Linked DNA regions of Homo sapiens. The protein of the gene in region 1 interacts with the protein of each later gene in a pairwise test. Each region holds a gene or a part of one and is shown on either strand. Other genes may lie near its edges. The genes, in order: CNOT2, TNRC6C, ZFHX3 and CSTF2.

Region 1 (7,028 bases):
GTACCAGGTAGGGCAGTTTAGGGGCAGAGTTAATATGAGGTGTACTGTAATGTTTGAGTGGAATTACATACAGTGTTAATCAAGAGATCTAGTGCTATGGTAGAACTTATTCTGCTTGATGATACAGGTGACTGTTCTTCCTTACTAAGAGCAGTTTCTACCTGTGATACTTAAAGGGATTGAATTTCACTGTGACTTATATCAGATATTTTGAAAAGAGCTGTGCTAAAGTTGATGTCATTGTAGAAAGTTTGCCTTGAAGTGGAATGAAAGTTAGGTTTTTATTTCTTTGGTTTTTCTGTTTGACATCCTTTGATTTCTATTTTAGAATTCAACTCTTATGACTAATCATGCTGATGTGGTTTGTTCATTTATTTTCTTTGTCTATACTATTAGGAATGTCCTGGAAATAGAATTTGTACTGTGTTTTCTGAGAGCTTGTTCTCTGAAATACAGATGCAAATCTGTTGGTATCTGTTGGTATATCCCTTGGGGGTGTGCTGCATTATAAAGTAATAAAACAGTTTACAATGTTTGCTTTTTGTCAAGAGCTTATGACATATAATATGGAAATACAAAAAAGTGAATTATTTAGGAAAAAATGGGAAATTTTTCCTTTTCTGGGCACTTCAGGGTTTTGTATATGCGTAGACTCAGGATCTAAGTCCACTTAGATATATAGTTAGATATTTTGGACTATTTGCCACTTAACCCTGCACATTTTCTTTTCCTTATTCTTTTTTTTTTTTCTTTGAGACGAAGTTTTGCTCGTCGCTGAGGCTGGAGTGCAATGGCGTGATCTTGGCTCGCTACCACCTCCGCCTCCCGGGTTCAAGCGGTTCTCCTGCCTCAGCCTCCTGAGTAGCTGGGATTACAGGCATGCACCCAGCTAATTTTGTATTTTCAGTAGAGACAGGGTTTCACCATGTTGGTCAGGCATGTCTCAAACTCCTGACCTCAGACGATCCGCCTGCCTCACCCTCCCAAAGTGCTGGGATTACAGGCATGAGCCACCACGCCCGTCCTATTCTTTTTATTCATGTGTATGTTATTGCATGTATGTGTGTGGGGGGCAGGTGGTAGTGCATATTTTATGTATCTTTCACTTCTCTGTTGTTTGATGAACTTCTTCCATACTCCTCTTTGGTATCACTTTCTTCATAAATCTTTCCTGACTCCCCAAATCCTTTGCTGTATTGCTTTTTACTCTTCAAACTTCTATTATAGAATGTCACACTGTATTGTAATTTACTGTCCATCTGGACTGGGAGCACCTGAGAGGTATGGCCTTGACTTGTTTATGTTTATGTTTTGAATGCCTCTATAGTGCATAATACTTAATAGGTTCTCAATACGTATCTATTAAACTGAACTGTTGCTAGATTGTCATTTGACAGTGCTGTTTCACAATCCACAGATCTGAAGCAACAGATTGGAAAAGTGGTGGGGAGAATAGCTTCCTGTATTCCTTCACTTCCTTGAATCCTTTCTTACAGTTTTGCTTCTTAATTACATATGGAAAAATAGATAACTAGCTTCTTAGGGAAGTGTGTGTAAAGTTAGTATGGAATTAGGGAAGGATGTTAGTAATAGAGTGATTAATACCCTGTTTTGCTTCTGGCAGGATGTTTAGATCTGTATTTCTTGCATTTCTCGCTGTATTTTGTATGGTTATGGCTATTATGTGAAGGAGATATTTTGTATTTGTCTTTACAAGGTATCATGTTTACCAGTACTTACCCATGAGCTCATATTAGATTTGGGGCTTCTGAAGATAGATTCTGTTTTTCTCACCTTTTTCCTCCTAATGCCTGGCCCATTGGTTAGTAGAAAGCAGGATTTCTCTAGTTTGAATAAAATTGCCCTTATGGAAATAAGGTGAGATGTGTCTTATTGGAGGTCCAAAATTTAAAAAGCTCTGAAAGTTGATCATTTCTTTTGTTTTGTTTTGAATAAGCAAGGTGAGAAAATATCAACTGGAATTATACCTGTGAATTTGATTATTATTATCTTTCTTAATCTGATTTTCCTACATTTTCATATGGAAATGTTCACGTGTTTGACTGCAGGTGTTGCCATTGGCAGATGTTACATCATATATGATACATACAACATTTTACCTTTCTCAAATCTGAAACTGTGTTTTGAGAAACATCTGGCCTTTATAGGTTTGTTTAAGAGATTGTGAGCCAATTTTCTGCCCATTTTAGAGATGTAGAAATCAAAACAGGATAGATGACTCTCAGAATTGCATTTTAGTAGATATGCTAATATTGATAATGATTTTAGGAATATTATGTCTTAATTGCCTGTATATGTTCCAGAGACCTTTTAGTGACTAAGAGCTGCCAAAGATACAGAGTGTATATTTTTAAAAAGGGAGTATGATCCAGTACTCAGGACACCAGTCCTTTCTCTGCCTTTTCTGAATGGAAATGTCTTTCCTTATACGTGAGTAGATGAAAATGCACATTTAGTAAGTTTTTACTAAAACTTAGTAAAAACTAATGATAAAATGAGTGAGGGAAAATTATGTATCCTGGCAATTTAGGTAACAGTGAGTAGACTTGCTTGTTTTTCAAACATATTGATATACTATTTTTCCATTTGTGTATTCAGATGTTGAAACAGCTCCAGTTTGTATTAGCATCTGGACAAAATGTAATGACTGATTATGTAATACAATGTGTTTGAGAGAGGAGCATTTGGTTTTGTGTCATATCTGGCAAGAATGTGCTTTTGTATTACTTTCTACATTGTAAATTATAATGCCTATCCTGCATACAAATTTTGTATTTAGTTTTCTGCTTGTAAGAATCTTTCATAGGTCAGTAAAATAAAATATTAAGTTTACTATGCCATTCCAAGCACCTGACTACTTTTGGCTTTGCTACTTAATATTTTTAAAATGTTTTACAGCTTGCAGAGAGGACTTTTATATACATTATCTTAATTTTATATATATTAAAATAAGTTTAAAACTTAGCATTTATGTTTATAAACAAGCTATTTTGGTCAATAAGAAAATTAGAAGTTGGGAATTATGAAGGCCGTTTTCATCTTCAGACTGGACTCAGAGTCTAATTTCTTTCTCATTTATTTTAGCGCTACTTTATAGAGAAAATCGTGATTTATTAAATCAAATAGATGTTAATGGAAGACTTGTTTTTGTTTGCATCTGATCATCTTGCAGATCCTGGATATTTAATCAAATTGATGCAGAAGTTTGAAAGACAAGCAGCAGTAGGAAATTTTTGTTTCAAGCTTGACTTTTCTGACAATATCCAACAGCTGCTCATATTTTTAAAAATTAGAAACATTCACTGAGAAACGTTAAAAACTTAAAAGCAAATACTGTGTTATAATGAGAATAGGTAATAACATATCATTGATGCTACACTTTACATATTATTGCACCATTATTCTGAGGTAATCATATGCCGAACAGATTACTGCACAAAGTAATGCTTTAGGGGTGTAGTTTTTATGGGAATGAACATGTCTGGCCTGAAATTAGAAAAAAAATTGGAGCCATAATCTTTCTAATCTATGCTTGCTTATGAGAAATTCTAGGTATATTTATGTCAGGCCAAACTATTTGCTACAGCAAACCGGTTAACCTGACATCTGAGATAGTCTTTAAAGTGTTTAAGTTTGGTATACAATGCACTTGTGTGTGTATATGACTCATCCTAAAATGGATGGATGTGTGTAAAAAAATTGTAATCCAATGCTTAAATGAATTTGTGAAGCACAAATAAGTGAAACACTAAGATGTTTCAGAGCATAGTTTGAAAATCCCTGTGCTCGATCACCAAAGTCACTTCCAACAGTAAAATTCTGTGTATTTTAAAAGTTCTTTTTCTATTCCCTGCACATGCAAAATTCATATAATTTAGCTGCTTTTTAGTAGTATTTGGATAGAAATTGTTTATTAAATTTAAAGTTGAGGCTCTGCTGGTTATATGTTAGCACTCTAGATGTTTTCAAGTAAATCCTTTAGTAATATGAGTGTTTAGTCTCTGCTTGACATTGTTATTGGATATATGACGGTGATCCAGACAAGTCTCCACCTTCATTAATGTAACATTCTGGAGGAGGAGACAGACAGTAAACAAATAAATAAACATAATTTCAGGTAATGGTAACTTAGGAAAAAATAAAGGGGGATAAAGGTACAGCAATTGATTAGAAATGGAAAAAAGATTAAGTAGGGTGATGAGAGAAGACTTCTGTGGAGGTATCAGTTGAGCAGAAAGGAGTAAGCCATGCAGAAATGTGGTTGAATGGTTTTCCAGGCAGAAGTAATAGAAGGCCCTGAGATAGGGTCAAGTTTTGTATGTTTGAAGATAAGAAATTTCATAAACAATTACTTAGTGCTTTCTGCATAAATGGGGGTAAGCTCTAAAGGGGAGAAGAGGTGATTAAAGCATAATGATCTGTGTCTTTCACTTCAGAAAATATTGTGGTGGACCCAGTAATCTGTAATAGGTTTTACAAAGAGCAATAGGAAGGAGGGATTATTTTTTATTAAGGTGCCTTGAAATTGTTTTCTACATCAGATGAATTGCAGGGGTTGAGGGGTGGTCTGTCTGGAGTACTGGAAAATGACATAGGAAAGCAAACTGAAAACTTTCCTTAATTCATGTGTTTATGTAGAATAATAAAACCTATACTTTTCTTAGAAATTAGTAATAAGTTTCATATTTAATTAGATTTTCTTGTACAGTCCAATAAATGTTACTTTGTGCTGTGCACTATTATAGTTGCACTGCGTAATTCCTCAAGTTAAATTTTTGTCATACTGTAGAAACATCCTAGAGTAGAGTAACTTTGTTTCAGGGAGTTAATGAGTTGGCTTCAAGGAGGTGATAAGTGAGCTCTGGGTTCTGAAGGGTGATTTGTAGTTAACTAGGTGGGGGAGGGTAGGGAATCAGCATTGTAAATGCACAAATCCTAGGAAAATGTTCTAGATTTGGAGAATGGTGAGGTAATCCTCCATAGCCCTTGATGGAATTCTGGGACCTCATAGGAGAAGTTAGTTGAAGGAATGAAGTAGCCACAGTATGAGGTCTTATCTTTTATGTGATGAGGGAACCATTAACCATTAGGAGGGGAAAAAAAAGCCAGTGAGATTGATAAGCAGATTCGTGTTTCAGGGGAAAGTTTAGATTCCACAGTCGATTTACAATTAAAATTATAAGCTTAATGGTGTATGTTTATGACATTTTTGAAAGATTATTTTCTCTCCATTAAACAAATTGAGTACTTTGCATTCATATAAGCAGGATTTTTATTTGTTAAGAACTGTATGACTTTGAAACTCTGTAGTCTATCTTTTAGAGAACTTGTTATATATGTAAATGAATGCCAACTGTTCAAGATTTTTCCGTTACTGGGGTGGAATTTTTGTATACGTTTTGGGGCAGGCAAAGTTTGAGTATTATCATCTGATGTAATGTGTTAGGCATGAGATTTAACATTCTTGGATAAATTGAAATAATACCAAGAAAATCTAAATCAGTGATAAAATCCCTACATAGGTGCTGATATTTATGTTATGTTACTAGAAGTGCTTATTTTACAATGCTATGATATGTGTTTGTGTGTTTCTCAAAATATATAACACTTGGATATATTAGGTTGCTAGCATTATCTGTTAATTGACATGCAGAAACAAATCCTAAATTAATGTTTTTAAAGAGAAAGAATTGCTTCTCTGAGAATGTAGTTTCAGCAAGTTATTTTTATTTTTATTTATTTATTTCTTTTTTTGAGACAGGTCTCACTTTGTCACCCAGGCTGGAATGCAGTATCATGATCACGGTGCACTGCAGCCTTGACCTCCTGGGCTTAATCAATCCTCCCACCTAAGCCTCCTGAGTAGCTGGGACTACAGGCGCATGCCACCATGCCCGGCAAATTTTTGTATCTTTTGTAGAGACAGGGTTCCTCCATGTTGCCCAGGGTGGTCTTGAACTCCTGCGCTCAAGCCATCTGCCTGCCTCATCTTCCCAAAGTGCTGGGATTACTGGCCTAAATTATTGCTTTTATTGTATGCATTATATACTATTTTATCATAACAAAAGTTAATGGTTCAACTATGGCATTTAGAGCTGCCCACGTAGCCTGATTGTCTATTTAGTTCACTTTTGACTGAGTAAAATGGAGCTGATCTATCTGCTATTAAAGAGAGTTATATTCTGAAATTTTACATGATGTTCATAATGCCTGGAACTAACCAGCCTGAAATGGAATCACCGTTGTACTGTTTTCAATTGGCTAGGTGACTTATTCTCCCTATACTTCAGTTTTCTCATTTGAAAAATGTAGATAAAAATAAATAAATAAAAACAAAGAAAAATGTAGATAAATAACAATACTTACCCAGTAGAACTGATGTAAGGATTAAAGTTTTTTGTGGGTTTTTTGTTCGTGTTCGTTTTGGAGTGGGACTTGTTAGGTTAAAGAGGAGCTTCTGGGGTATACAAGAATTAGCCACAATTTATTTCATAGAGTGCACTATACTCTTTTTTGTATCAGATTCGTAAATGTAAACAAGAATGCAGTCTTGCTCTTAGAGTCTAAACATGTTTTTCCTACCAGGAATTTTGTTTAGATGACCTTCTGTGAAGTAAGATGTGTAATATTTTGAGTAACATAAATAAATCGTCATATTGCTCTGTCTGTAGTACTTGGCAAAGCACAGGGCACATAATAGGCATTTAATAATTCCTGTGTTAAGTGGGATAAATCTAATGGGTTAGGATTCAGACAGACTGGTGTCTACCTTTTTCAACCTGAATAGTGCAGAGTTAGTTACCTGTAGTAGTTTTTTCTTCTGTGCCTGTTTTCTTCCTTAAAATTAATAAAATATTTTCTTCCCTTAAGTGTATTTAGTAGGTTTAAATATGACCCTGTAAAACTCCTGACAAGTAGGTATTTACTGTTGTTGGTTCCCATGCCATTTCCTTTATTTAGAGCAAAAATTGCAAAAATCCTGGAAGTTCAGAAGAAACACTTAGCAC
Region 2 (7,028 bases), on another chromosome or scaffold:
AAACAGGTTTACATTTATATTTAGTTGGCTTAGGAACTTTGGAGTAAATAGTTGCCTTTAGAATGCTGATTGTGAAGGTAGAGTGGAATGAACTGTTTCGTTTGACATTCGGTGATTAAAAAATAACTAAGTCATACAGAGGATATATGAAACTAAATACAGTATTTTTCATCACCGCTACCGCCACCTTTTTGTTAAACAGCTGGCTTTCCTGAGATACATTTGTGCTTTTCCAAATGCTGTCATCTGGCTTACTTCCAAAACCAAGCCAGAGGAGGGTCAGGGCTGGAGTAGGACAACCTTTCTCCTTAATGAAGGGAGTTTCCAGTTTGGAAAGAAATGGAAGACACAGTTCCTGCAGTGCTGGCTGGGAATGAGGTATTTACATTACCTCTCCAACCCCAATTGAAGGGGATGAGGTCTTGATTGTAACTTAGTCTTGCTTGGCCCAGGAAAGTGATGCTAACTTGACATTTTTTAAAAAAGACTACTGATGAAAGTTAATTGTTTGATTTGAGTATATAGAATATCTTTGGCATCGTAGAAGTTCACCAACAACCTTTTAAGATTGAAAAACCATTTAAAAGACTATTTGGGGGTCTTTTTGGCCTTCCCCAATAGGAATTGGAGCATTCGATTGCATGCTTATGCTTTGGATGACTGTTTATCTTTCAGTCAGGGTTTATTGTGCAAAGGTGATACTTAAGATTTTATAAGAAAGAAAATCGTTTGGCTGTGAACTCTAGGCTGTCCCGTATACCAAAGTAAAACACATGGGACAATTAAGATTTGGGGATAGAGCAAGCAAAGATTACCAAGAGCAACTGAAGCTGGTGGAGAAGGCACAAGAAATGGAGAGGAGGAGACAGGAACAGATTTATAGACGTCCTTGGAGCTGGCAGAAGGATAGGTTGAGGGAGCAGGAGGCGGAGTCCTGAACAGACTGAGCGTGAAAGGGTCTATATAAGCTGGGAAGAACCAGGTAACTTTATGTTTGTTTTGTTTTTGTTATCTTCCGTTGAACTTGTTTTGGCTTCTTTCTCATAATTTTAAGACATGGGTTTTTACCTTTTCTCCAGCTCTATCTCAGAGGGTCTTCAAATATTTTAGGTGAGAAGTAAGGAAATATTTTGAAGTGTTGGTGACACAGTCTTTGGTCTCTCTTGCATGACAACTGGTCCCAGTGAAGGTGACTGGATTTTAGTTACTTTAGATAGTTAACATCTTAATATTTTGTTTGAAGATGTCATAGATTTGAGTAGGGACAGCAAAATATCAGGTGAGAAGTGGCTCCTATTTTGTAGGGGGTAGATTGTACAGGTTTTCTTGCTTTTACTCAGTCTATGGCTATCCAAATTTATACAAATGAGTTTTTAAATAATTGTGTGGTCACGAGGAGAGCATTCTTTATAAAATGATATACAATAAGCTTTCTTTAAATAGACTTTAATGCAGTGGAGTCCATTTATAAATTTTCAGCTTATACATAACTTTTTAGGAATATAATTACTTAAAAATGTAAAGGTTACTTGTCAGAAATAACTATATAACCTTGTGCAGAAAGTGTATATCTGAAATTGAAACTGAGAAATGTATAATCTTAGCCAGTGAACTTGTTTGAATAACCCGATTAAAATAATGGTACAGTTTCCTATTGTACAGATCGTGCATTTGAAATGTTAATTTATTTAATGAAAAGTAAATTATGTAATTTTAAAAAATCTCCACCTGGGATATATATAACAAGGTTTTACATGTTTAAAACATGCTGAAAATCCATATCGTTTGTTCCATTTTTGGAGTTTTACTAAAAATGAATTCTTTTCTTAGCTTTAGATGTTTTCAGAGAATGAAGAAGCTATTGCAGGAATGGAGAGCTGTTTGTTAAGAATGCATTCCTCCTCTGTAGCCTTCAAAAGACTATAGAGCTGTGTGCAGAGCTAGACAATCTGGGCATCCAGCCATAAAACATCACTGCTGTAGCACAGATAGTTGTTCGCACTCTCCTGAGCCCTCTGTGGCTGCAAACCACAACAGAAGTAATGGTCTTGGGAAAGGAACACTCAATGTTATTTTGAACTCTTAATATTCTCTGTGTCTCTCTGAGTTCCAGCTATGCATTGGAACTTTGGTTTTCTAAAATATAGTAGTGATTAAGGATGAGCAATAATATAGCTTCTTAAGTATATTCCTCTTGTAAGCCAGTGGATTTAAATGTTTGCTCTAGGAAATAAGGGGTGTCTAGGAAATAAGAGTTGTCTGTCCCACCATCTTCCTCTTTATTTGCCTCTTTGTTGCAATACTTCTTTTCTGTTGGAGAACCACTGCCCTAAGACCCATATGATCACTGGGCCACACACAGTGCACATGGCCCAAAGAGTCATCTGGAATCTTCCAGATATTTTGTGGGATGGATTGGTCTAATTTGGCCCAGTTTCCACTTTCTCATGAACCTTTTTGGCATAACAAATTTTTAATTTTTTTGCACAAAAATGAAGAAGAGTGTGACTGGCATCTATTTGTATAAATCCAAATGGTTTACTCTGAAGACCCTCTCTGTTTTTCTTCTTCAGACCATTTTAGAAATTAATACTCTATTGTATCTTTATAACTTCCTTCTCTGAAGGATTGAACTACAAACCTATAGTATCACAGTGTCAAGTTGAATTATTCTCAGCAGTTGGATAACTCTTGTCTGTGGTTGAGTCCTTTACTAATGTGCAGACTGTCTTTTGACGTGGCTAATACCAGATGCAAGTTGGTGCCCAGGTGGTTATTGGGAATATGTGCTTTGTTTGATTCATTTTATGTGTGCCTTCTAGCTTATTAAGAATAAGATCTCTCACAGCTAAAATCAAGTGCTTGGTTTGAGCCTGGCAAAGATATTGTTTACTTTTTTATTCCCAAAGATCATTTCTTTTTAATTACTCTTTTAGGAAGCAGGGAAAATCTCAGTGAAAATAGCAACTGGGAATTAAACTAAGATCTGAAACTGGGAAATGGCAACGCGGGCACAGGTGTCACCTTTCCAACTGTTGTTGAGATGATGTGGACAACGGTTATTCAGAAATTACAGTGGGGAGGAGGGAGATGCACAAGTATTTTTTCTCATACTCCATATGAAATATGAAGTGCAGAGTGAGGGGCCCAGAGTGTAGGGAGGGAATTTAATAGGCTTTGTTCTTCAGGGGGCTATGGCTGATGTCTTAAACAAGGTCTTTTTTGGTAGGGAGGCACAGTAAGGGAAGAAGGTGATGGATTTGTGGGAACAAGTACATTTGAGTCACTGAGGACAATTGGGAATTGTGAAGTGGGAGTGGACGAGGTTAGAAAGCATCCTTAGGTAACCAGATCTCCATTTAAAACTAATCTGAGCATTTACAATGTGATTATGTGCCAAGGACATGAGTTTATCTTATTTAATCCTCACAACACTCCTGTGAAGTGGTTGCTTTTAACATTCCCATTTTACAGATGAGCAAAGGGAGTAATTTCCACAAGATCCTATAGCTTATAGGAGATGAAGCCAGAATTTAAACTCAATACACTTCAAAGCCCTCACATATGGAAAAAGCTTGGATTATTTTAATAGCTGCTTAATGAGTCTCTTCCTCTGTTCTGTGTCCTGCTATCCAGCTGCCAATATTAACTGACTGCCTTCTGAGCACTTTGTGTGTATGATCTCATTCATTTCTCCTCAGCAGCTTATAAGTTAGGAGCTGTGATTATATTCACTTTATACATGGAAGCTGAAACTGATGGAAGTTGAATAATTTGCCCCAAATCAGAGCCTTAATAAATGTGTCTAGGTCCTTGGAAGCCAGAGCTTGAGCTCTTTATCATTCCGCTGTGCTGCCTTCTGAAGCCTGAGCCTGATTACATCATTCCTTCCACAAAACCTTTATGTCTTCCCTGTGCAGCGGCCACAGGGGAAGGACATCAACTTCTTCCTGCCCTCCTGGAGCTGTCTTACTAGTATAGTGAGAGAAATGGGCACCAAACAAGTTGTTAAAAAAAGAGAGAAAGCAATACATGTGAAGAACGCCACATACACATATTAAAAAGTTGACAAAAACCTAAGGTAATAGATCATTATATAGCTGTATACTGGATCTCCTCTCTTAAGGACGCATGTCAAAATTTTGGATGCTCTGAGAACTCCAGCAGTGAAAGAAATATGTTTACCTTTATTGGCCCAGTATTTCCCAAACTTATGTGGCCATTGAACATTGTTTTCCCTTCATACCACTTTTTAGTTCAGTGGGACTGACTTTAACAAATTCAGAAAGGAAGAGTGCCTGGTCATCCCCAGAGAGGGCCTGTGGGCTGCAGTGGTTAGGCAAGACTTCACTTGAAATGAGTTCTGAAAGGCTGGCAAAGCTTGGTTGGATGAAAGGGATATTCTACAAGGAGACGAATGGGCAAGCCATGTTTGGAAATATTTTGTAAAGCGCGTAACATAATGGCTGAGACATAGTAGGGACGGGATATAGTTATTGACTGGATGAGTGCAGAGGCCTAGCTGTAAATGGAGGTTCTGTGTTGGCAATAAGGTTTAGAAGGGGCTCTATCAGGTGGAACCTCTAGTTGTTGGCTCCTTAGGAACCGTTGGTGGCTGTTGGTGGGCATGACATGAATCAGGTGTTGGATTAGAATCTTCCTTGAGCAGAGGTATGGTGTTAAAACTGGCTGTTGTAGCTGTCTGTGCAAGGTGATGCCTACATACTGGTAGGGTCAAACTGAAAAGCTGTTACAAAGAATCAGCAGGATAAAATAATACAAAATGATTGACGTGGGTTGTTGGAAAGAATGAGTTCTAAGAGGCATAGGGTACTTACTGCTCTTCCTAGAATCTGCCACAGAGGCTTTAAATTAATGAAGCTAATATTAAGATATTTGGTTAAATACACATAGTACATTCTTTTTAGATGCTGATGGGGAAAGATGACACACAAGATAGTAGTTTTAGGCGAGTTTATTGTATGAGGTTGTGTTCTGCAGTAGAGATTTGACTCACAGCATAAATCCAAGTATGTGATGAGCCATGTAATAATAGACGTCTGCTGTTAATTATGGTGGATACTCTCAATGAAATCAGATTTTCTTAGGGCCATACCCATAAAAAAATTCTTGACCTAGATCTTATATAACAGTCCCAGGTATATAGTAAATTTTATGCATATGGAATGTTGACAGGAAAGAAGAGAAAACAAAAATCTTTAATGTTTCAAGGAAGCATAAGATCAAATCATTACATAAATAGAATAGCAGCATTAGTAATTGTGTTGAAGTTACTAGAATTTTTAAATTTTAGGTAAACTTAAGAGATTCCTTAAACTTAAGGAATAATAGATTCTTTTTTACTCCTGTAGAGTGGGGAAACTTTAAAACAGATAAAAATATTTTTTATTTTATCAGTCAGGTGATGAATGAGGATCTTAGCCACTGTTGGACTTTTGTGTATATGTAGTGTGGCATTTAATTGAGCATTGTTATTTATTCTTTTCTATCAACTTTAGACTTTAAATTTCAGCACATTTCCTTGCAGATTAATGCTTTGCAAAAAAAACTTCATTATCATGATAATTTCTTAAGATTTGAGTTACTTATTAGCAGGGATAATAACATGTTCATCTTTGTAATCCCTACATCGTCTATAGTATTTTGAAGATATTTAGATAACAATCATCTGTTTCTTCAGAGATATTGCTTCCACAAGTCATGCGGGGGGGGAGAGAAGATTGATAATTGAACATGTTTCTTCGGTTTTTAATCTTTTAGAATAACGATCAACTGTGTTTTCAACTAGTAAGCCTGGTACGTGGGGCTGTATCTGCAGATTTGAGGGGAATTGGGAAGCTGACAGGTGAGGAACAGTCATCATAGGGGCTCCCTGCACTACTGTTTTCTGTAGGGTACCTGAAGGAGTGGCTAGTTCCTTTTCCTGAGGCCTCTGGGCACTGCCAATAAGTGCCACTGACCCAATCATGAAAAAACAATGTGTGACGCTTCTCATGCACAACAAAATTGTAGGTATGATAGATCAATTACAAGGTAATTCCTGGCTTGTCTTTCACAGATTTGATGATGGTCTTTAGATACTAGCCCATTGGAAAAATGAGTGTTATGACTAATGAGATTATTCTGGCCAAGCCAGAATGTCTGGTTAGCATTATTCTGGATAGACTTATATCCCGCCCTCCTTTAGGGAAAACTCTCTGGAAATAAGAGGATTTTTAAAAAGAGATTGTCAGTATTCTTTTTCTTGAAATCAATTTATGTTTACTCATAATTTCAGTACTCCTTTAAAGGTTACTTTATAAAAATTTGAGATGTAGTTATTATTCTTATTATTCTTATTCTTATTCTTATTTTGAGACAGAGCCTCGCTCTGTTGCCCAGGCTGGAGTGCTGTGGCATGGTCTCAGCTACTGCAACCTCTGCCTCTCAGGTTCAAGCGATTCTCCTCCCTCAGCCTCCTGAGTAGGCGGGATTACAGGTGCCTGCCACCACGCCCAGCTAATTTTTTGTATTTTTAGCAGAGATGGGGTTTCACCATGTTGGCCAGGCTGGTCTCAAACTCCTGACCTCGTGATTCGCCCACCTCGGCCTCCCAAAGCACTGGGATTACAGGCGTCAGCCACCGCGCCTGGCTGAGATGTAGTGGGTTGTTGTTGTTGTTTGAGACGTAGTCTTGTTCTGTCGCCCAGACTAGAGTGCGGTAGCGTGATGTCAGCTCACTGCAACCTCCGCCTCCCGGGTTCAAGCGACTCTTCTGCCTCAGCCTCCCAAGTAACTGGGACTACAGGCGCCCGCCACCACACCCAGCTAATTTTTGTATTTTTAGTAGAGACAGGGTTTCACCATGTTGGCCAGGATGGTCTCTTATCTCCTGACCTCAGGTGATCCGCCCACCTCGGCCTCCCAAAGTGCTGGGATTACAGGCGTGAGCCACCGTGCCCGGCCCGAGATGTAGTTATTTAAATAGCTTATGCACATGCCTATTTAGCCTTGGATGGCAGAATTTT
Region 3 (6,847 bases), on another chromosome or scaffold:
TGTAGGTGGAAGAAAAAAAGCTCCTACCCCTGAAAGATACACCAAAAAGGAACAACTGCACACAGTGACAATAAGGACATGTTTCCTGGATGCTAGAACTAAGCCACATCACCACTAGCCCTAGAAATACTTTTCCAGCAGTCTGTAATCACAGATTTATTCTAATGAACTAACCACTTTTGGGTCACCAAAGATGAGCCAGGCCGGTCCTGGGAGTGTCTAGCAAGCATCATTTAAAGTCATAATGATGAAAACTAAATCTCGCTTATTTTAGCTCCTTGCCACTGGGCTGTCCAATTGGCACTGAGTTGACACAGCAGTTAAATTCAACCTCAAAGCAGCAAGAAGGCAGGCACTTCACTGTCCTGGTGGGAAGAGCCAGGCAGGGGCCTGTGGAGGGCACCGTTTTAGATGGGCCTTTCCAACCCTCCCTTAACATTCATTTGTGCAAACAAAAAATGGAAGAAAAGGAACCAAAATTAAGTTTCAGGTGGTTGGGGAAGCAGCATGGATTTACATTATTATTATTATTATTATTATTATTATTATTATTATTATTATTGAATAGTTAGCAAGTGTTTCTCAATAGTTCCCTGTTCATCAACACTGTTTTCAGGAGAAATGGAAAACAGTAGCTCTATTTCATAGAAAGTACAGCCATTTCAAAAAAAAAAAAAAAAGTGGGGGGGGGTTGTTGAGAGAGGGAAGTGACCCATGTCATAAAGACAGAAGGTCTCCAAGTCACTTAATTCCTTGTGATTCTGAAAGGGCTGTTTTTAAAGTCTAAAAGTGCTCGCTTCTGCATCTGCTCCATGTTGTTAAATAACACTTGTGTAATTAAATAAAAGAGCCAACTGTGACCCCAGCCCACTCTGAGAGGCACTTTACATGCTTTCTGAAAACTATGCTGGAAACACCATGAGGAGAACTCCTTAGTCCTGTAATTTAGCAAAGGGAGAGAGAAAAAGTTTCTTTTGGCCATCATAGCTACACACTCTCTGAAAGGGTGCCTGCAGGGTCTCTGCAAAACAGAATGAACACAAATACAGGCGTGCAAACATCCAGGTATGTACCTCTCTGTGAAGACCCCATTCTTGAAACCCTTCAATTATTTGGAACCGTGGTCTCCTGACTTCCCTCACACCTCACTTTTGCCTTCATTGTTTTTCATGTTTGAGTAGCAAGAGGGATTCAGAATCTCAGGCTGCCAGTGGCTGTTCTGATAACAAGGAGCAGACTCATGTTTCTTGCTACGGCCTTTCTTGATCAGGTTACCTTGGAAGGTGTATGTTTTCCTACCCAATGCAGTCCCCACCACAGCACTCTCGTGTCCTCCTCCAGCCCAGCCTCCTGGAACTCGTGATTTTCAGGGTTTCCCTTGAAACCTATCCAGAAACCACAGCCATTAACTGAACGTGAAGATTTGACACCTCCTGAATTCAGGAATGAGGGAACTCGAGGGGCCAACTCTACAAACTCGCACCTGCTGCTTGACGGCAAGGAAACAGAGTTTCCCCAGCTAGGGTGAGCTTTAAATTATACACTATTTATTTAGTGACTTGTCTCCAAGGATCTCAAAGCATAGAGAGAAATAAGATGATGTGTAACTTTCTCACAATCTACCTTCAAGGCTTTGCCCTGGTGCATTCTGACAAGCAGGACCCAGTATGAAGGAGAGGCCTTCCTTCTGTGCCCAGGCAGAGCCATCTGTTCTCTCTGGGGTTTTCTGTCAGTGGCTTTAGGGAGTCTTCAAGGACTGTTAAATGACACAGAGGGTGGGGGGAGGGATGACCCTCCTGGATTCACCTGCTCACGGCTTTCACTTAAGCCAGTTTAACACAGGAGGTACCACTGTGCCACGCAATTCCCTCTTAGCACACACCATGCGTGAGCTGCAGTCTTTGCCCTCCAGGCCTTTTCCTATCATAACACAGGTGTGTCCAAGGCAGAAAAGAACATTTTCCAGAAGGTTCGTTTCCCTCCAAGCCTACAATGCTTCTTTTTGTTGTTATTGTTTTTCTGCTACTGACCTAAACATAGGCATTCCTCCTCCTAACAGGATAAAAATCTTGACTCTCTCCTTTGCATCAGCTCCCCACCCCGCCCCTGCCCAAGGAAATAAATGCTCTGACTTTTCCAAGAGTGCGAAAAAACTAAAATTAGAGGGTGGACAAGATGATCTCCAAAGGTGCCCTCCAGCTCCAAAACTCTGATTCTCCCTTTAATTACTCCACAAGCGCATTCTTCACATTGTTTCGAACTGACCAGCGACTTCTCCAGGGCTGAAAAGGGTGCATTTTTAGGCGGAGGCACCCAAACTTCTAAATGACACCAGTACCACAAGTATTCAGAAGGCAGGAACTAATCCAAAAGCAGACTCAGGAAAGGAGGAGGGAGGGGAGGACAGAGGGAAGGGAAGGAAGGAGGAAGGAAGAGCTTTACTGTGTGCCCAGCAGAATTTAGGCGCTCTCACCCTAGGTAGGTGGCAACTGGAGTCTGGGAGTTCAAGTGCATCCAGCCTGCCCTTCCCCCACACGCCCCAAGAGAATGGGAAGTTCAGCCAAGACTCGCAGCACCTGCCCGCGGCTCCAGGCCGGCTGCGCGGACCCGGAGGGAGGCTGCACTCACCTGGCACACCAAGCCTCCGCGCACCTCCGGAGGGAGGCGGCACTTGCAGGTCCGGGGGCCGCGCCGCCATGCGCAACAACGGGAAATTCCAGTGGCACCCGAGCCCCGAGCTCACCCACCCCAGGCGGCATGCTCCCCACCTCCCGCTGGCCCCAGGACTCGGAGGTGGCTCTGGTCAGGAGCAGGGGGCCCGGAGACAGGGGAGGGGAGCTCATGGTGGCGGCAGGGCTGGCGGTCGGCCCGTCCCCGGAGGGAGGTCCCCGGGACGCGGCGGGGATTCACCCACGGGGCGCGGCGCTGGCGTCCGGGTCCCCGGCCTGCCCGCCGCCGCCGCCTCCTCCTCTGCCGCCGCCCGCCCGGAATCGCTTTATGTAAATGAAGCCCAACTCGCAGTTTGCAGCGCGCACCGCCCGGGGAAGGGGGGCGGGCGGGGCGGGGGGCCTTCGGGGATCCACATTACACAGCAACAAAGCGGAAGGTTAATTTGAAACTCACAGCCCCGCTGCCGCTCGGCTCCCCGGGCAAAGCCTGACATCTACAGTCGTGCCGGGCGCAGGCCGGGTTGCTCGGCGGCGACCGCGCCCGCCCGCCCGCAGGGACCCGGGGACGCACAGGGACGCGCGGGACCCGGGCGCTCAGCTGCGCTCGCTCCGCTTGGGGCGCGGGCCTTGGGGCAGGCCGGGGGTCCCGCGCACCCGCCTGGGGCCAGGAACCCTCGCCGCTCGGCCTGCGCCGCCCCGGGAACCGGCCCCGGCGGGAACAAAGCCCAGGCCCTCCCGGAGGCGCTGACCCCTCGCTCATCAAAGGTCAGGGGCCGGCCTAGAATCGGGCGAGAAGAAAGGGACGCGCCCTCGGCCACTAAAAGGAGCCTGAGGCCTCCGAACCGGAGCCATCGCTCCCTGGGCCCCGTCCACGTCACAGCCAGGCCACTCAAGCATGGGGACAGGAGCCAATGTGGACAGGAATTTATTGGAAACACACACCCATCCTATTAACTGCTTTACAGAGCACTTCTGTTTTTCAGTTGCAGAAACTTATAAAAACATCCCCCTGCTCTCCGTTGAGAGTTTAAGGATAGTTTTTGAGGCCAGAGAAAGAGAAAAGGAGAGATCACTAGAAAGATAGGAAGAAAAGAAGTGGGAAGAAAAGGAGATGCAGTCTACCATGTAAGCCTCCAGGCTCCTTAGCCTCACCTTATAAAGCCACATCACCGCAGAGATAGCAAAGATCGTGCCCTTTCCCAGGGAGTTCCTACCGCCAGGGTAAGATTTAAAGCGGCCACCCCAGTTGGTCAAAGTGATTGCTGGGCGCCTTTCTATCTCCCCAAGTTCACCTTTTCCAGTTGGTCAAAGCGATTGCTGGGCGCCTTCTATCTCCCCAAGTCCACCTTTTTCCATTCTCATCTGAAAGCCAGCCCCAAAGAAATCTCACCGGAAGTCCTCTGTCCTCCCTGTCAGAATCCCACCCTCAGTCTGAATTTACTCCCGATTCTCACAGCACAGAAAGGCACCTGCTTTTACCCTTTCTGAAAACCACCCACCCAGGCTGGCCTTACAGCCTGGAGAGTCTTTTCCTCGGGCACAATAATGAACCATGCAAGTGTTAGAAATATAATCAGCTCATGAGGCGAAGAGCAGTATGTATGGAATTGTATTAGCATGAGGCACACACTGACTCGGGAGAAAAAGGGATGCTTAGCTGGTGAAAACCATCACATCCCCGTATAGAAGGCTTTTTGCACAATGTAAGTTGGGTTCAGATTAATGTAAGTATCTAACCTGTTGGGTACAGACAGCCCCTTTCTACATTTTAGTCCAGAATAGATTCTGGGGAAATTTATTTATTTATTTATTTATTTCAGCTAAGGCCCTGGGAGAAAAGACTGCCTCCAGGGAATCATGTCCGATTAGGGACAAAGGAGGGCACAAGCCCAATTCAGTCACACGTGAGAGCACGGGGGCCGGGTGGGGGGAGTTAAGAGCCAACAGGGAAGGTGGAGGATGAGTTTGCAAACCAGACTATGGTCACTGCAGAGCTGCTTCCAGACCACCTGACTTCAGGCCCAAGAACAGGTGGTGTTTTCAAAACACACTGTTATTTATATTGGCCATATAAGTTGAGAACACCTTAAAGAAAACAATTAATAATTTAATTGAAAAAGTGACTATGAATAAGACATGAAGATGACGTATGCTAGCAGGACCGCAAGCAACGTGGCCCACAACGCAGAGATGCCTCTGGCAATCTCTCCGGAAAAACGAAGATTCCTTACCTGGGATAGGTAAGGCCTGCTGGATAAATTAAAGACAACAAGAAAATGTTGATACTCTCAGAAAATCTAATTTTGCTGCTTTATCTTCATTTTTATTAACAGGGGACAACCTCGTAATCTGGTGACATCATGATCCTGGTAGGCCCACAGACAAATACCTTCAATAAAATAAAAGCTAGAAAGCCCAAAGAACAAGCTATTAAAGTAACCTGGGAGGATGCAGCACTGCCTGGGCAGAAGGCCCGGACGGGATCTGCCCTAATACTGCCACTGTCCCAAGAGGCAGACCCTGCAACCTGCCTCCTGCACTTGAGAGGCCTGACAAGTAGAACTGAGAGTGACCCTGAGTTCCTTTTCTTTATCTGGCACCAGCTACACACATGATGAGGCCTAGTCAAGCCTGCCTTTGTTCCAGGCAAAAATTTAACAGGTAATCCACAGGCAGGTGATCTATGGCCTCTGTACATTATGGAAATGAGGGACTACACACAAGCTGGGTGTCACCTCTACTAAAACTCATTTTCCTTATTCATAAAAACAATACCTCTTCAGAGGGAATTGGCAACTTCTGCACTTACATATGAAATCAGGAGTTCCTCTGAAATACTCCTTGCAAATTCTATCCTCCAGCTCTGGAAGCCCTGGCTCTTCGGAGGGCAGCTGCCTGATGTTAAACCCATGGCCTACCCAGCAGTGACAGCCTGACATTCTCATCGCTCCATCCTGAACACTGCTGACAAATAAACCCACTCTCAGAAAAGGCAATTCTTCCCTCGCAGTTCTCCATACCCAGTCTCGTCTCATCTGGAAAGCGTAATTGGCAACAGCCGAAAGGATAAATATTTAAAAATAAATCAGGGAGCGCTAACCCCTTCCCTACTCCTCCCCTTACCCACTCTCCAAGCCAGAGGCCTGCCCCCTAACGCTGAGCTGGCTGGTAAATTACAATGATTCTACCGAGCCAAACCTGCTTGTCTCTCTCTTTCTCTACACATACACACTTACTAATGCTGTATCCTTCCACTTTTGCAAAGGTAAATATGATCTCTAAGATACAGTGGATGTCAGCATTCTGACTTCCAGCGTAACCTGGGCTCTCTTTTCACAGTACAGCGGGTTTAGACAGATTTGTGCACCCTTCCGGGTTCTTCTATTTTTATTAAATTATACGTATACATTGATTTTTAAAACTAGTGCTTAAATAACCCGGAGGCTTTAACAAAGAAAAATCCAGAAGAGGGCAAGAAACAAAAACAAACGTTCCTGAAATAAACAAGGAACCATTTGGAGCTGAATTGGCCTGAGTTCACCCCATGATTTTGAGGCAGTTATATTTAGGGGCCTGGTACCCGCTGGGTGGCCGAGCCCTCCTGGGTATGGAACAGAATGCAGAAGTTCCTCAGAACAGCTCACATTTGCCTTCATAACCATTGGAAGCTGGTGTGCCAAGGCCTGCACACAGATGTTTTGATTCACATTTTTCTGCTGAAGCCTCAAGGCCTCCATCCATCCCTACAGTGCTAATTCCATAGATTAATTTTTACCCCCAAATCGTAGGTGGAACATTATCTAATTTCCTTACCCACCCTCCCCAGCTCAGGTGCTAAATCTGTCAATGATATCCCACAACAAAGATACAAATGAGTAACCATTTTTTAAAAGCTGTGATTTCGGAGAGTTTTTCTAAATTAATTTTAAGTTACAAAGCCCCAAGTTTTAAGAAAGCCAAAATACAGAAGTTGCCTTAAAACAGCTTTACATGTTAGGTAAAGAGCTCTCTCTCTCTTTCTCGCTCCTTCTTTTTTAAACAAAAATATTATTTCTGAAAGGGCAAAGGGAATTTGCCATGCAAGACTTTTAAACACAGGGGGATTCTTACATTTGTGTTTCTAAACCTTGAAATTGAGAATTTTAATGAAAAGGCGGACAGATGCTTAAGGACAGCAT
Region 4 (7,028 bases), on another chromosome or scaffold:
CCATTAGCAAAGCAGTTGCCAGCCTTCCACCAGAGCAGATGTTTGAGCTGATGAAACAAATGAAGGTGGGAGGAGGCATTAGGTTATGAATAAAGCAAATCACATCAGGTTTTCAAGGAGTTACTTGAATTAGTTCCCTGAGCTCAAATAGAAATTGTCTGTAGACCACCATTTCTTGCACCTTCAATATTCTGTATGTACACAGTATATTTTACATTTTGTACAAAGAGCTTTCTATTTTTGTACACAAACACAGCTATCCAAACAATCCAGCTGGAGTTTTGTGGCCCATAGATGTCAGATGTAGATATTAAAATTTGGCTTTTTTCCTAAATGATAATATCACAGTATTTGAAATGCCTCTTTCTTCTCTTGCCTGCCATGACCAAGGTTTTTTTGTGCCATGCAAAAACTAATGATAAAGAGCCTCTTGAATATTACATTTCTCAGAGGGGAATGGCTCTAAATCACTATCAGTTTCTAAGTCATAAGTATTAAACCTGAATCTGCTTATCTTCTCAGCTCTGTGTCCAGAATAGTCCCCAGGAGGCACGGAACATGTTACTTCAGAACCCTCAACTGGCTTATGCTTTGCTGCAAGCACAGGTAGTGATGAGAATTGTGGATCCGGAAATTGCCCTGGTGAGTGCTTCTGGTTCTTTTATGGAAATGGTCGGGTAAACCTTGAATGGGATAGGAACTACCTGATTGCTTTGTTAAACAGACAGCTCATAGGTTTGTCTTTTCACTTTTTAGAAAATTCTGCATCGCCAGACAAATATCCCAACGCTGATTGCAGGCAACCCTCAGCCAGTCCATGGTGCTGGGCCTGGCTCAGGATCCAATGTGTCAATGAACCAGCAGAATCCTCAGGCCCCTCAGGCCCAGTCTTTGGTAGGGCTTTATCCCTTAACATTTTTTTGTATCTGTCTTAGAATGTCATTTTCTTTTTAGGAGAATATATTGAAAGAAGAATGGTCAGGAACCAGAGATGATAATTTCAATTTCCAGGCATAAAAGCAATTTCCAGGTTGCAGAGCACATGACATCTGAATGAATATAGATTCGATTCCAAGTTTGTAAAACAAAGAGATCCTTCCCGTATGCCCTTTTCTTATAAGCTAACTTTGTGTGTATGTGCATGCCTGGCACTGTGGTTGGCACTTCGTTATTCCATATGCATTATCTCATTTAATCCTCAAAGCAATTGTATGAGGTTGGCACTCTTATTATCTCCATTCTTACTGATGAAAAAAGTAAAGCTTGCTTTCAAAGCATGACACAAAACCTTAAAGCCATAAAAAATTGATACATTTGAAAACTAAAAAATTTCTATATAAAGAAAAAAATAAGTATCAAAGACATGACAAATTGAGAAAAAGTATTTACCACACATGTGATGGAAAACAGACTAATAAAGAGCCCATAGTCATTCACAAGAATGTTTATTGCCTTAGAGTGAAAAATTGGAAATGTCCTAAATGTACGTCAGTGGAAGAATGGAGAAAATGTGTGGTACATTCATCCAGTGAAATACTGTACAACAGTTAAATAAACTACACGTATCAACATGAATGACTTTGAAAAACATAATTCCATACAGCAGTTAAGATGAACTAGGATACATAATATCAACACAACTCCAAAACAGTGACATACGGACATGAAACTAAGTGAATATGGATGCATTCCCGAAATGTAGGATATATGTTTCTGCATAAATCCCCAAAATATGTGGAATGAGTTGCAAAATAATATATTGAGTATGTAATGATTCATATAAAATTTTGAAACATTAAGAAGACGTCTTAGTGGTCATCAAAGGAGAAGAGAGCACAGGATGCAATTGGGGAAGACCGTACAGGCCATTGGTTTATTTTATTTACTTATTTATTTCCTAAGCTGGGTGGCTATTTTATTTTCTATATGATTTGTATATCTGTAATTTTTCATAATAAATTTTAAAAGGCCTCCTATAAATTAGTAAGAAAATTTCCAATAACCCAGTAGAAAAATGGGAAATAGACATAAATATTTCACAAAAGGAGAAATATAAATATATAAAAATTTATTCAACTTCAAAATAAGATAATGTAATAAATTATCATTTATATATGTAATGTTATAAGATAATGTAAATAGAAACTACAATAAGCTACCATTTTTCATCTCTCAGGTTGGCAGAGGTACAGGGCAGGGACCAGCAAACATTTTTCTGTAAATGATCAGACAGTAAATATTTTTGGCTTTGCAAGTCACAGGATCTGCCACAGCTACTCTGCCATGGTAGTATGAAATCAGCCATAGGCAATAAGTGAACAAGTGTGTGTGGTTGTGTTCCGTTAAAAGTTTGTTTATAAAACCAGGCAGTGAGCCCGATTTGGCCCATGGGTCATAGTTTGCCAACCCCTGCTCTAAATAAATAAATACATTTTCAGAGATAGAAAAAAAAAGCTAAGGCCCAGAGAGGTTAGCTGGTCCAAAAATTGACACAATTATAAGTGGCAGATCTATTTCTGAACCTGGTTTTATCTGACCTCACAGCCAGTTTTCTCTTAACTACTTTCCTATACAGCTCTTCCTTTTCTTTTGTAGAGTTTTGTGTTCCTTAAACGTATATGTGATTTTTTTTATATAACTTGGCTTTTATTCTTTATTTATTGAGCTGTTTCTAATTCAAGGGACTACTCAGTTTTTTGGGGAATGCACAGATGAAAAGATGACATTCTCTTTTTCTCAACGAGTTTTAATGTAGCATTTAAAAAAATATATTTCACATTCCCCCAAAACCAGAATTATATCTAAGGACAGGAGTGAGAAAAGATTGGTTAAATTAAAAAAAAAATTTAATTTTAAAAATGTGGACTACCAGCAGTTGTTTTTTTTAAAAGAGTCCCAGTCTCCTTTTATGTTTCTTGGGTTTAGGGCTTTTTTTTTTTTTTTTTTTTACTCTTATTGGCAGCCCCAATCATGAAGTTAACAGTAGGTGTTATGTGCTGCCTTGCCACACAGATAAGACTTGTCAATCTCTACATTGAGAATATGTTCCATCTTAACCGTGTTCCATATAACCAGGCTCATGACGTATATTGCTTCTGTGGAGTTTAAAGTGTGTGACAAATCTAATGCTGCATAAGACATGCCATACAAAAAGGATGTTTAGTAGTGTATTTGGGGCTGTTCATTTGAAGAGGACTTTTAAGGTCGTAGACTTAGTATATTGAGTATCCACAGAGGCATATACATACTCTGTTTTTTTTGCTTGGTCAGGGTGGAATGCATGTCAATGGCGCACCTCCTCTGATGCAAGCTTCTATGCAGGGTGGAGTTCCAGCACCAGGGCAAATGCCAGCTGCTGTCACAGGACCTGGCCCTGGTTCCTTAGCTCCTGGAGGTAAGTTTCATTTAGTCTTCACCATTTCAGTACTTGCTAAAGTTTTGTCATAGCCACTGTTGCAGTGCAGCCAAATATGATAATGGGATCCTTAGGTAAAATTAATACACAGCTAGAAAGTATATATCTTAGGTGGAGGAAATAGTAGATTTCTTACGTTAAATCCTGTATGTCTAATTATAAGAACAGGGAAAGGGACAGTAAAGTGAAAGAGCATAGTAAAACTTCCAAGTTAACAAGGGGGAAAATGGAATGAGTGGAAACAAAATCAAGCCAGCAAAAATAGAGAAGAGGAAAAAAGTAAGAGACAGTGTAAAATAAGTAATAATAAATGTAGAGTAAGATGGAAGGAATAAAAACTAATGTAGTTGTTACTCTGCTAAATATGAATGAACTGTCAGATTAGGTTCAAAAGCTCATGAAGAAAACAGACAAAAAAATACAAGGTCACATTTGTTATAGCATATTAAACTGACATAAAATTGTATTTTAACAAACATAATCAGAACAAACAACAAAAGGGAAAAAGAGAAATTTAAAAGCTATGTACATTTATTGAAAATGTATAGATCGGCAATTAATAAGAGTATTGCTCATATACTTGTAACTGTTCCTTGTTCAACAATTGTAACTAAGAAGATTGAGTGAAATAATGATTCCCCATATGAAACATCTGTATGAACACATGATGTATTACCAATATTTAAAGTTTTTTTATGTAACAAACTTGGTTTTTGTTAATTTATCTAATCTAGGGTAGGTTGAGTACAACACTACTCATGGAGAATGATTTAATTCTAAATTGTTCTGTTCTGTAGAGAATCCAGTCTGCAGAGCTAAGTTGATGAGGAATGGAAGAAGAGATTTTTTGAAGAAATTTCTGCAAACTCAGGAATTTTTTGTATCTACTTTAGGATTGTTATGTATCTACTTTATCCTAATAGAGTTATACTTGTATTTAAATTATCTTTCATGACAGGAGGTCCATGGGTAAGTGACATTGTTTTCCTGTATTATAGAAGAGCTTCCTGCCAAGAGTTTGGTAACCAATGAAATGAATTATTCTTATTGAACTCACTATTCTGTCACTGAAACATAAAGTACAAATTGTAAATATACTAACAAACCCCATCTTCTCTCTCATTGCATTGTTGAATATCTTCCTTTGTAGGTTTCTGCTTGTGGAGCAGAATGAGGAAATTTGTAAACTCAGCCACTGTTCTAATTTTTCTTTTCCGCTGTTCTAATTGGTGTTTTTTCTTGTCTGCCCTTTATCTTCTAGGAGGAATGCAGGCTCAGGTTGGAATGCCAGGAAGTGGACCAGTGTCCATGGAACGGGGGCAAGGTAAATAAATATTAATGTCTGACTAATGTTAATTGGTCATGGAAGTGTTCCACATCCACAGTATCTAATATGGCAGCCACTAACCACCCATGGCTATTTCAATATTAAGTTAATTAAAATTAAGTAAAATTTAAAACTCAGTTCCTCAGTCACAATAGCCACATTCCAAGTGCTCAGTGGCCACAGGTGACTAGTGGATACCATACAGGACATTACAGATATAGAACATTTCTATCATCGTAAAAAGATCTATTGGACAGTGCTGGTCTAGACTTTCCACCTGGTGATTCAGAGTCCAGCTCTACAAGAATTGATAATGAAGCAAGTGGATCGTTTGTTTCCTGATTCCTAGTCTAATAATTCCACTGACATGTTCTCTCTCCCTGTATGGATATCTGTTGACTGAGTAAGGAATTTTAATAATGAGCATGTAAATATGTGGCTGGGTATGTAGAAGACTAGATTTAAACCCCAGAGAAAACTGGGAGGGAATCATAGGTCTGTAACGCCTACTTAATGAACATATGTTGTACCGTGGCTGTACTGCTATATACAACAGTAGCTGCTGCTCCAAAATCTCCATGTTGTTTCTTCATGTTACTGGAGTTTGAAGGACAAGAAAGTGCAGTGGTTCAGTTGGAAACAATGTTAGGAGGAGAGATCGTAAGAAAAGAGAAGGAACTGAGTGCATACTATATGCCAGGCACTTTAATTTTCATAAATAATCTTGTGAGTTAGGTGGCAGCACCTCAGTTTTACAGGCAAAGAGTTGGAAGCTCAGAATAAGTTACTTTCTCAAGGGGACAAGGTAAGTAAATATTAATGTATGAGTAATGTGGACTGGATTTGGTGCTCTTATTTTCTCTTCCAACTAGTAAGTGGCAGAGCTAAGATTCAGAAGTCTTTGACTCCAGAATCTGTCCTCTTTCTGTCACTCCACACTGCCTCTGTTAACTTCCAAGCATATTCTTCAGTGTCTTCTACTCTTATTCCTTGGGAATAAAATGATGGGAAAGACTGCTTTGGACAAGCATAGAGAAGCTTAAGGTTTTTTCTTTTGTAGCATATGGTTTATAAGTGGAACCCATTTAAAAAGCAAAATATTGGCCAGGCGCAGTGGCTCATGCCTGTAATCCCAGCACTTTGGGAGGCTGAGGTGGGTGGATTGCTTGAGCTCAGAGGTTTGAAACTAGCCTAGACAACATGGCAAAACCCCGTCTCTATAAAAAATACAAAAACTAGTTGGGCAATGGTGGTGTGCACTTGTGGTCCCAGCTACTTGGGAGGCCGAAGTGGAAGGATCACTTGAGCCCAACAGGTTGAGACTGCAGTGAGCCATAATCGGGCACCACTGCACTCCAGCCTGGGCAACAGAGCAAGACCCTGTCTCAAAGAATATATATATATACACACACACACACATATATATACACACATACATACATAAACATTAATATACAAGCCTGTGGTTTTTACACTGGGGTTGGTTGCTGAAGTGACAGAATTAACTTTTTCTTGTTAGAAGTCTGACAGCAGGACAAACTCCCTGGCCAAATATCTCATATTTTCTCTAAGCATCCAATGCTTTTGTGCTATTGTACATCCCTCTATCCCCACCGCACCACTGTCAATAGATCATATATGTTCCCCAGAGTATTTCTGCAGTAATGAGAAGGTATTAGGGTTTCAGTCATACTTCTGCCTGTCATGGGGCCAGCCCTCAATCCATCAGGTTTTAGCTGTTTAACGCATACTTGCACAAGACATCTTCCTATTATAGTTATCTTCACCTTTTTGTCAGAAATTGGCAAAGGGAAGTGACTCATGTTTTGAGGGTATTTCCAGGATGTCTTCATGCAGAGACTAAGTGAGATGAGCTTTCTTTTATAGTTTCCTTCAGTACCCAGCAGAGGAAGCAAGAGTCTTTTCGTGTGTGCCTAGTTTGTCTTACTTTTCCTGAAATCCATGCTGCTTTTAATGCTGAAAGGAGATGGAGATGTTTGAGAAGATACTTCTTGCTTCCCTGCCATGTTTGTTTAGTGTCGGTTCCCATGTCATCTCATTAGTCTTTGTTTGCTGTTGTCATGATGTTTATTATCAAAGACTTGCTGTGGCAGAGTATTTCTTGTGGAGTGATATTCTCTTTCATCATGTAAAGTTCATTCACTGCATTTCCCCATCTGATACATTTTTGACAGCAGAAATTTTTGTGCTTTAAAATGTGACAAAAATAGAATTGCCGTACTTCAGTTATGGCCGTTTCAGAATGAATCTTGCCTTCCAGATTCA

The links.
Region 2: the proteins of CNOT2 (region 1) and TNRC6C interact in binary tests that used the Homo sapiens proteins (3 or more experiments, as listed by UniProt).
Region 3: the proteins of CNOT2 (region 1) and ZFHX3 interact in binary tests that used the Homo sapiens proteins (3 or more experiments, as listed by UniProt).
Region 4: the proteins of CNOT2 (region 1) and CSTF2 interact in binary tests that used the Homo sapiens proteins (3 or more experiments, as listed by UniProt).

Annotation. Positions count from the first base shown.
Region 1 is NC_000012.12:70,246,431-70,253,458, forward strand, and holds part of CNOT2 (CCR4-NOT transcription complex subunit 2), read left to right. Parts: intron 1-7,028. UniProt on the Homo sapiens protein: Component of the CCR4-NOT complex which is one of the major cellular mRNA deadenylases and is linked to various cellular processes including bulk mRNA degradation, miRNA-mediated repression, translational repression during translational initiation and general transcription regulation.
Region 2 is NC_000017.11:77,961,677-77,968,704, forward strand, and holds part of TNRC6C (trinucleotide repeat-containing gene 6C protein), read left to right. Parts: intron 1-7,028. UniProt on the Homo sapiens protein: Plays a role in RNA-mediated gene silencing by micro-RNAs (miRNAs). Required for miRNA-dependent translational repression of complementary mRNAs by argonaute family proteins.
Region 3 is NC_000016.10:73,045,124-73,051,970, forward strand, and holds the start of ZFHX3 (zinc finger homeobox protein 3), read right to left. Parts: upstream 3,006-6,847; 5' UTR 2,699-3,005; coding exon of another isoform or gene 2,629-2,698; exon of another isoform or gene 2,455-2,628; intron 1-2,454.
Region 4 is NC_000023.11:100,823,364-100,830,391, forward strand, and holds part of CSTF2 (cleavage stimulation factor subunit 2), read left to right. Parts: coding exon 1-65; intron 66-522; coding exon 523-642; intron 643-756; coding exon 757-894; intron 895-3,270; coding exon 3,271-3,394; intron 3,395-4,676; coding exon 4,677-4,739; intron 4,740-7,028. UniProt on the Homo sapiens protein: One of the multiple factors required for polyadenylation and 3'-end cleavage of mammalian pre-mRNAs. This subunit is directly involved in the binding to pre-mRNAs.